2 separate regions of the Homo sapiens genome follow, and region 2 is linked to region 1. The links come from fine-mapping of genetic effects on gene expression. A gene starts in region 1. The other region holds a variant in brackets. All regions are shown on one strand. Distances are between the middles of the regions. Region 1 holds the start of NDUFB10 (NADH:ubiquinone oxidoreductase subunit B10). Region 2 overlaps NHERF2 (NHERF family PDZ scaffold protein 2).

Region 1 (4,208 bases):
ACAAAGCCACAGACTCAAATGCCTCATCGGTTTGGACAGGCTTTTAGCTTTCTTATTTCTCATAAGCCCTTTGGAGGGGAGAGAGGAGAACTTCCTGAGTGTTCCAGCGTTTAGAAAACAGCAATTCGTCTCTCTAAGGGATGTGGCCAGCCAGGCAGGCCTGTGAAGGCCTAGGCTACAGCTGATGGAGAGCTCCCGAGTACCAGGCATCATCCTCAGAGTTCCACATGCATTACCTTACTCTGTCCCCCACACAAGCCTACAGGCAGCTGCTTCTCACAGATGGCAAGGACTGGGACGCAGCTCTGCCAGTGCACCTCCCCCAGCTGCACAGGGACCCTGCTGGGTGCGCAAAGAGGCTCCAACAGGGAGCCTCCAGCAAGCAGAACTTACCACCTTACGGCCTCAGCTTCCTCACTGGGAAATGAACGAGCTAAAAGGAGAGCTCGAACATCCAGACACATAGGACAGACATGCTCTACAACTGCTACAAAAGAGAGGGAGCTGGGTCCGCTGTTGCACGGTTTCCAGATCTTTGGGGGTTTGATTTGGAGACTTCACCCTCTTACGGAAGAACCACCAGAGCATGCTATGCACCCCAAGTGTTCAAAAAGAACTGAACCAGGCTGGACACGGTGGCTCAGGCCTGTAATCCCAGCACCTGGGGGCCAAGGTGGGAGGATCACCTGAGGTCAGGAGTTCGAGACCAGCCTGGCCAACATGGTGAAACCCCGTGTCTACTAAAAATATAAAAATTAGCTGGGCGTGGTGGTGGTGCGCCTGTAATCCTAGTACTGGGGAGGCTGAGGCAGGAGAATCGCTTGAACCCGGGGTGGGGCAGAGGTTGCAGTGAGCCGAGATCGCGCCACTGCACTCCAGCCTGGGCAACAGAGTGAGACTGTCTCAGGAAAAAAAAAAACAACAAAAACTGAACTGGGCATTTTCCCGGTTCGTTCCAGAGATGCTGAATTTGGGCATCTCGGCCATCACCCCGACACTTGGTCATCCGGCAGAGAGACATTTGAGAGAGGCCTGAGGCCAGCGGTGCAGTGGAGGGGTGCCCGGGGCGGCGGGGGGCGGAGAGCAGTGCGGGGTCCTGGGGCAGTGGGCGCTGGGTGCGGCAGGGAGGGAAGAGTCCTGGGAAGAAGCGGGGCATCCCGGGGTGCAGGGGAGAGTAAGGGATCCTGGGAGGTGAGGTCCGGGGTGCAGTGGGAGGCCAAAGGAGGCGACGGAGCTCGGAGGTCTCCGGGGGTGGGGAGTTGTCCCCGGGGTGCAGCGGGGGGCGGTCTCAGGCAGACGGGACCCCGGAGGCATTGGAGGATCCAGGCAGGGTGTGGGATCCAGGGGTCCCCAGAGGCCGGCGAGGGAGCCCCGGGCTGGGGCTTCGTACCTCTCACGAGGGTCACGGGTCGGTCCACGATGAGGTCGAACGCTTTCATCATGTAGACGATGGGATTGGGCTGCACCGGCGTGCGGCGCGGGGGCTCAGGGTACACATCCTTGTCCCAGCTGTCCGGCATGGCGGCGGCGGGCGCGGACTCCGCTCCCGGACGCGCTGCCCTGGCCTCTACCTCCGTCCGGGTCCCGCGGCCTAGGTCGCCCGCTACAGAGGACGCCGAGGGCGGCTGCGTCTGCGCGCTGGCGCCGCGATGCACCATGGGACTTGTAGTTCCCCGGCTCCGCCGGGCGCGGCCGGGACCCGCCTCGCCGCAGGGCGCCCCCGCGTGGGGCCTCCGTTCTCGGTCTGTGCCGAGCGCCTACGCGGTGCTGGTCGCTGGTCTGGGCGCCTGGGAAGCAGCCGCGAACCGGACAGATTCCTGCTTACGATGAAAGAAACAGACAAAAGGCAACTGACATAAGGAATAGGAGGGGGTCATTCGGTTCCCACTGCGCGCCAGGCACTGTGCTGAGTGCAGCAGGGAATAAGATAAACTGTGATGGAGAACACAGGCCGTTAGAGCGCACACGACAAAGTGAACAAATAGCACGCGATTCCAAACACCCTACTCCTCCAGGAAGCTTTCCTGGATTGCCTAGTCCCTACAGACTTCTCTGGGCCCCGCTCTCTACAAGGGCCCCTCATGGACTGGCTGGTGCCAGTTAACTTGGGAGCCTGTCTGGGGGAGGGCAGGGAGCAGACCAGGAGGCAGGGCTTGCCCTTAGGCGGCTCATAGGGAGAAGGCACCTACCCTGGGCACAGGGCCCTCTGGCCGGCTTTGATGGTTCCATCCTGGCCCTGGGGCACTCTGGTGCTTCTAGGCAGCTCCACTGAGCAGGGTCCTGCTGGCCACATCTTCAGTCTCCACACCTGGCACGGCCCCTGGCTGCTATCCAGGGGGGACACTGGTCATGTCCTGTCCTGAGGTTGAGGCCAGCGACACAGAACCATCAACCCTACAGACAAACAGTGAGAGGTGACAGCGTGCTGGCAGTCCTCAGAGCCCTCGCTCGCTCTCGGCGCCTCCTCTGCCTGGGCTCCCACTTTGGCGGCACTTGAGGAGCCCCTTTCTGGGCTGGCCAAGGCCAGAGCGGGCTCCCTCAGCTTGCGGGGAGGTGTGGAGGGAGAGGCGCAGGCGGGAACCGGGGCTGCGCGCGGTGCTTTGCGGGCCAGCGCGAATTCCAGGTGGGTGTGGGCTCGGCGGGCCCCGCACTCGGAGAGCCTGGCCGGCCCTGCCGGCCCTGGGCAATGAGGGGCTTAGCACCCGGGCCAGCGGCTGCGGAGGGTGTGCTGGGTCCCCCAGCAGGCCGGCCCACCGGCGCTGCGCTCGATTTCTCTCGCCAGGCCTTAGCTGCCTCCCCGCGGGGCAGGGCTCGGGACCTACAGCCCGCCATGCCTGAGCCTCCCCCACTCCGTGGGCTCCTGTGCGGCCCGAACCTCCCCGACGAGCGCCGCCCCCTGCTCCAGGGCGCCCAATCCCATCAACCACCCAAGGGCTGAGGAGTGCGGGCGTACGGCGCGGGACTGGCAGGCAGCTCCACCTGCAGCCCCCGTGCGGGATCCACCGGGTGAAGCCAGCTGGGCTCCTGAGTCTGGTGGAGACGTGGAGAACCTTTATGTCTAGCTCAGGGATTGTAAATACACCAATCGGCACTCTGTATCTAGCACAAGGTTTGTAAACACACCAATCAGCACTCTGTGTCTAGCTCAGGGTTTGTGAATGCACCAATCGACACTTTGTATCTAGCTACTCTGGTGGGGACTTGGAGAACCTTTGTGTGGACACTCTGTATCTAGCTAATCTGGTGAGGATGTGGAGAAGCTTTGTGTCTAGCTCAGGGATTGTAAACGCACCAATCAGCGCCCTGTCAAAACAGACCACTGGACTCTACCAATCAGCAGGATGTGGGTGGGGCCAGATAAGAGAATAAAAGCAGGCTGCGGGAGCCAGCAGTGGTAACTCACTCAGGTCCCCTTCCACAGTGTGGAAGCTTTGTTCTTTCTCTCTTTCCAGTAAGTCTTGCTGCTGCTCACTCTTTGGGGTCACAGTGCCTTTATGAGCTGTAACACTCAACCGCGAAGATTTGCAGCTTCACTCCTGAAGCCAGTGAGATTACGAGCCCACTGGCAGGATGAACAACTCCAGACGCGCGGCGCCTTAAGAGCTGTAACACCGCGAAGGTCTGTAGCTTCATTCCTGAGCTAGCGAGAGCGCGAACCTACCAGAAGGAAGAAACTCCGAACACATCGGAACATCAGAACGAGCAAACTCCGGACACCCCGCCTTTAGGAACTGCAACACTCACCGCGAGGGTCCGTGGCTTCATTCTTGAAGTCAGTGAGACCAAGAACTCACCAATTCCGGACACAACAGGATCTACGGTCACAGAAACGTTCGGTCTTCACATTATGAACTTTTTTTTCTTTTTTTGTTTTTGTTTTTGTTTTTTTTTTTTTGAGACAGTTCTCTCGCTCTGTTGCCCAGGCTGGAGTGCAGCGCGTAATCTCGGCTCACTGCAACCTCCTCCTCCTCCCAGTTTCAAGTGATTCTCCTGTCTCAGCCTCCTGAGTAGCTGAGACTACAGGTGTCTGCCACTACGCCCGGCTAATTTTTTGTATTTTTAGTAGAGACAGGGTTTCACCATGTTTCTGGTCTCAAACTCCTGACCTTACGTGATCTGCCCACCTCGGCCTCCCAAAGTTCTGAGATTACAGACATGAGCCACTGTGCCTGGCCAAAGTCTTGGAAAGAAATATGAACCATGAGACC
Region 2 (4,491 bases), 72 kb before region 1:
CCTGACCTGTACCAGCCTCTGGGGTGGGCTCCGTGGAGGGGCTCCCGGAGCCCGGGCAGGTGGCGTGGCACTCCCGGAGCGTGCCATGACAGCGGCACAGTGACAGCAAGTGGCAGGCGTCCGGCCGGGGTGGCCTGAACTCTCTGGCCGACCCAGGCTGCCACCCCACTTATCTACCTCCCTCTGCGGCCCTGGCTCCCCGGGGATGGGTGGGGACGTGGGGGCTGAGTCACTCTGGGGAGCAGGGTGATGACTGAGCCCGCTCCCCTGCGAAGGCTCCAGCCTGGCGCCCCCCACCCAGCTAGGCTTCCGTCCCAAGAAAGGAAGGAAGGAAGCTGCTGGAAGGCCCTGCCCTGCCCCAGGACCCAGGGCTGAGGGGACAGGGAGGAGTCCCGGCCCCAGAACACAGGACGGTCCTGTTGAGGCTCCAGAGGAGCAAGAGCCAGGGAAGCCCGGAAGCCCCCGCAGGCACCGCGCCCCAACCACACAGCCGCCTCCCGCAGAACTGTCACCCCTCACACCTGCTCTTAGCCCCCAAGGCCCTCCAGATGGGGGTGGAGACATGGGCTAGGGGCAGGGGGCAGAGGGCTCAGGGTCTGCCACCACCTCCAGGGCCTGGCACCGCTGGCCACCCCGTCTCTGTTTGGGGGCTGTCCCCTGTCGTCACTACTAGGATCAGCTGCACTGCAGCTGCGGCCACCCCCAGCCTGGTGTGGCCCAGGGCTGAGTCATCACTAACTAGGCCTTCACGGCCCCCAAAAGGAGGGGCCAACCACATCAGTGTCCTCCCCTGCCCACCTCCCCTATCCCCAGCCAGGACAGAGGACACTGAGAGCCACCCTTAGCTCCCAGGGGGCACCCAAAGTTGGGCCCTCTCCATCCTTCACCAAAGACAAACTACACACATCCCTTCCAGAGCTCTGCCTCTCTGCCACCAGTGCCCCCACTGGAGCCATCCCCGCAAGGTAAGCTTTGCCCTCCTGGGCTCCCTGACCATCTGAGGCATGCCCTGAACCCAGGCTGAGAAGGGCAGGATCTGAGCCTGCTCTGTGGAGGTCAGGTGAGGCCCACCTCTTCCTGCCCATGCTGGGAGCTCAGGTGAAGAAACCTCAGGTCCTGAGCCAGGCGCAGGGGCTCACACCTGTAATCCCAGCACTTTGGGAGGCTGAGGCAGGCGGATCACTTGAGCCCAAGAGTTTGAGACCAGCCTGGCCAACACGGTGAAACCCTGTCTCTACCAAAAACACAAAAATTAGCCAGGTGTGGTGGTACACGCCTGTAATCCCAGCTACTCAGCAGGCTGAGACATAAGAATTGCTTGAACCCAGGAGGCGGAGCTTGCAGTGAGCCGAGATCGCACCACAGCACTCCAGCCTGGGCGACAGAGTGAAACTCCGTCTCAAAAAAAAAAAAAAAGAAAGAAAGAAATGAAACCTCAGACCTCAGGGGCCGGGTACAGTGGCTCACACCTGTAATCCCAGAACTTTGGGAGGTCGAGGAGGGCAGATCACCTGAGATCAGGAGTTCGAGACCAGCTTGAGCAACATGGTGAAACCCCGTCTCTACTAAAAACACAAAAATTAGTCAGGTGTGGTGGTGCGCGCCTGTAATCCCAGCTACTGGGGAGGGTGAGGCAAGAGAATCGCTTGAACCCAGACAGCGGAGGTTGTAGTGAGCCAAGAAAGAAAAAGAAAAAGAAACCTCAGGTCTTGATGCCAGAAGAGAGAAGGGGAGACCCTGTTCCTTGGGTGCCCCCTGACCTCCTGGAGCCCCTGTCCCCAGCCAGACTCATGCACAAAGGGACCTGCCACTCAGGCCACCCTTTGTTCCTCTAAAAATACACCCAGAGGAAGCCCCTCCTAGGGCTTCCTGCAGCCCCCAGAGCCTGAAATAGCAGAGGGGGAAGGTCCCACCCAAGGCAAGGTGCCTGGGCCACTGCACCCTCCAGATAAAGTCCGAGGGCCGGATTTTTCCACAGGAAGGTGAACCATG[C/G]GTTTGTGTCCAAATCAATGGACAAACGCCTGAGGCAGAGGGGGAGCTTCCTCCTGGGGGAGGGAAGGTGGCTGGGAAAGAGGGAGGCCCCAACCCTCAGCCTGGAGACAGGGGCTTAGGACCAGCCAGCCCCCCTGCAAGGCCAGCCCCCCCACCAGCCCTGGGCTGGGCACCTTGGCCCTGAGCACCACTGTGGCCCGCCCTCAAGCCCCAGGAACAAAACGGGTCCCACAGGTCCCACGGGCAGGCCTGCGCCCAGGCTGGGCTCCCCACAGGGAATGCTGTCTCCCTGCCAAGCCGCTCCCCCCGGGCTCAGCTCCTAGGGGCAGCCAGCTTCAGCAGTGACGTCTGGGAAAGGGAGAAAGTGAATGTGTATATCCCCTGCACCCTCAGAACTCCAGATCCCACACCCCTGCCCCAAGCGCGGTTCTCACAGTGGGGTCTGGCCAACCCCTGGACTCATATCCCCTGAAGGGATTTCTTTCTTTTCCTTTTTTTGTTTTTTTTTGAGACAGTCTCACTCTGTCGCCTAGGCTGGAGTGCTATGGCGGGATCTCGGCTCACTGAAACCTCCGCCTGCCGGGTTCAAGCGACTCTCCTGCCTCAGCCTCCCAAGTAGCTGGGACTATAGGCGTGCCCCACCATGCCCAACTGATTTTTGTATTTTTAGTAGAGACGGGGGTTTCACCACATTAGTCAAGCTGGTCTCAAAATTCCTGACCTCAGGTGATCCACCCATCTCAGCCTCCCGAAGTGTTGGGATTACAGGCGTGAGCCACCGCACCCGGCCAGGGTTCTCTTTGAAAATGAAAAAAAAAAAAAAAAAAAGGTAGGAGAGAACATGGAGATAATGCCATCAGGGCCTCCAGGAAGATAAGACAGACAGCTTCAGGCTGTTCCTCCTGGTCCCCAAGGCCTGCCAGGCCGCCCCTCCCAGTCGGCCACCTAGCAGGAGGTGGAGCAGGCCGCCCCTGTACTTTTCTGGGTCTCCTGGCTGGGAGCAAGGGCAGGGGAAGGAGGAAGTACTACCCAGCAGGAGTCCAGGAGGAACAGCAGACAGGGTCCCAGGGCCCTCCCTTGTATCTAGGGGGAGGAGTGGGCTCACCCTGGAGCCTCCTGGACCCCCAACTCCACTCCCATGCTCCCAGCCCCACCTACGCCAGGCCTGGCAGAGTGGCCTCCTAGGCTTCCCCAACCACGGCGCTGCCTGTGGAGAAGGCCGGCCCTCTCCCAGGCCTTCCCAGCATGCAGGCGCCTTCAACAGAGACAAAGACAGAGCCACGGATGACACCCAGCACAGGCACAGAGCTGCGCACACGCAGACCTGGAATGCCTCTTCCCAGGGTTCCTCAGCCACGAGGCTGGGGGCTGGGGAGGCGGCAGCTTGTCAGAGTGACCCCTCGATAGGGCAAGTGGCTCTGGAGCATCCTGGAGAAGAGGAACAGGCCAGGCTGCCCTGACCCTACCCAGTTTAAAACACAGGCTGAGGGTAGAAACAGTGGCCCCCAGTGGCCAACAAGATGGTCCCTGGGGCAGAAAAGGAGCCCCAAAAGGCAGAAGAGACCAAGACTTCTGGAGGTGACCAAAGGCAAAGATCGTCGTCAAAAGCTGAGAGAGCCTCTGGGAGAGGCTAGGGTGGTCCCTGTGGGCCAAGCCCGCCATACCTTCTTGCCAGCTTCGGAGCTGTGGCTGCCGGTGTGTGCCCAGTCTGGCTTCGGCTCCCAGGGGTCGTGGGCGGGTGGGAGCCCTCGCTGGGCCATCTCCTCGGTACAGGTCAGCTGCCGCCGGCGGAGCTCCTCATCTGTCTCCTGGTCCACCACCAGCAGCCGAGTCTGCCCCTCCACAGCCTTGATCCTTTGCACCACCTGGGGCGAATGGGCGATAGGAGCGGGTCAGTGGCCCACATTCCGGGCAGCACATGGGCAGTGGCACCACTCTGGGCTGGCCCAGGCGTGCGGACAGGCGGCTGGTCTGCATGGGCGGGTGGCTGCACCAAGAGGCCTGCCGGCCCCGCCCCCCACCCCCGGACTCCAGCGGCTCCCTCCCTCTGCACTCAGGCTCCGGACACTGAGGCCCAGGCTGTGAGGGCTTCAGGGTGCTCCCAGAGCCTTGCCCTTAGCCCAGGGTCTTCTCCAGGCGGGGCTGGGAAGGGGCTGCAGGATAGGGCCGCTGGGTAAGTCCTGTCTGGAAGTGACAAAAATGGTGCACAGTGGACCTTCAGGTTTTCAGTCTGCCTGTCCCTGTGCGCGCATGCATCCATCTGTTTCAAAGTCTGTGTCTCCGTCCAGGTTTGAAGGAGAGGTGTGTCTCCCTGGGCCCCAGTTTGAGTGTGTCTGTGCCCATTCCCGTCATTCTCTGCCGTGCAGTGTGGGAGTCTAAACTCCTGACCCTAGGCCTTATATCTACCTCCAGGCCATGGCCATGGGCCCATTCCCTCTGGATCTGCAGAGAGGGGAAGGGCTGGGCTCCTGGCTCGGGCACCCACACACAGCCAGGGAA

Evidence for each region. PIP is the estimated chance that this variant, and not a neighbour inherited with it, causes the effect. A credible set is the group of variants that fine-mapping cannot tell apart.
Region 2: its variant is the best candidate, but not a certain one, in a credible set for the expression of NDUFB10 in whole blood (INTERVAL, PIP 0.72).

The regions. Positions count from the first base shown.
Region 1 is chr16:1,956,937-1,961,144 of GRCh38, reverse strand. NDUFB10 (NADH:ubiquinone oxidoreductase subunit B10) reads right to left here and starts at 1,607. Exons shown (of 4, transcript NM_004548.3): 1 at 1,391-1,607. The coding sequence starts at 1,520. RefSeq lists silencers at 978-1,087, 1,518-1,827 and an enhancer at 2,550-3,391.
Region 2 is chr16:2,028,948-2,033,438 of GRCh38, reverse strand. NHERF2 (NHERF family PDZ scaffold protein 2) reads right to left here. Exons shown (of 7, transcript NM_001130012.3): 2 at 3,657-3,857. Among named protein-coding and RNA genes, the nearest start is that of NHERF2, 4.3 kb to the right of the region's middle. RefSeq lists an enhancer at 296-880. The variant C/G (reference allele first, on the strand shown) is at 1,993.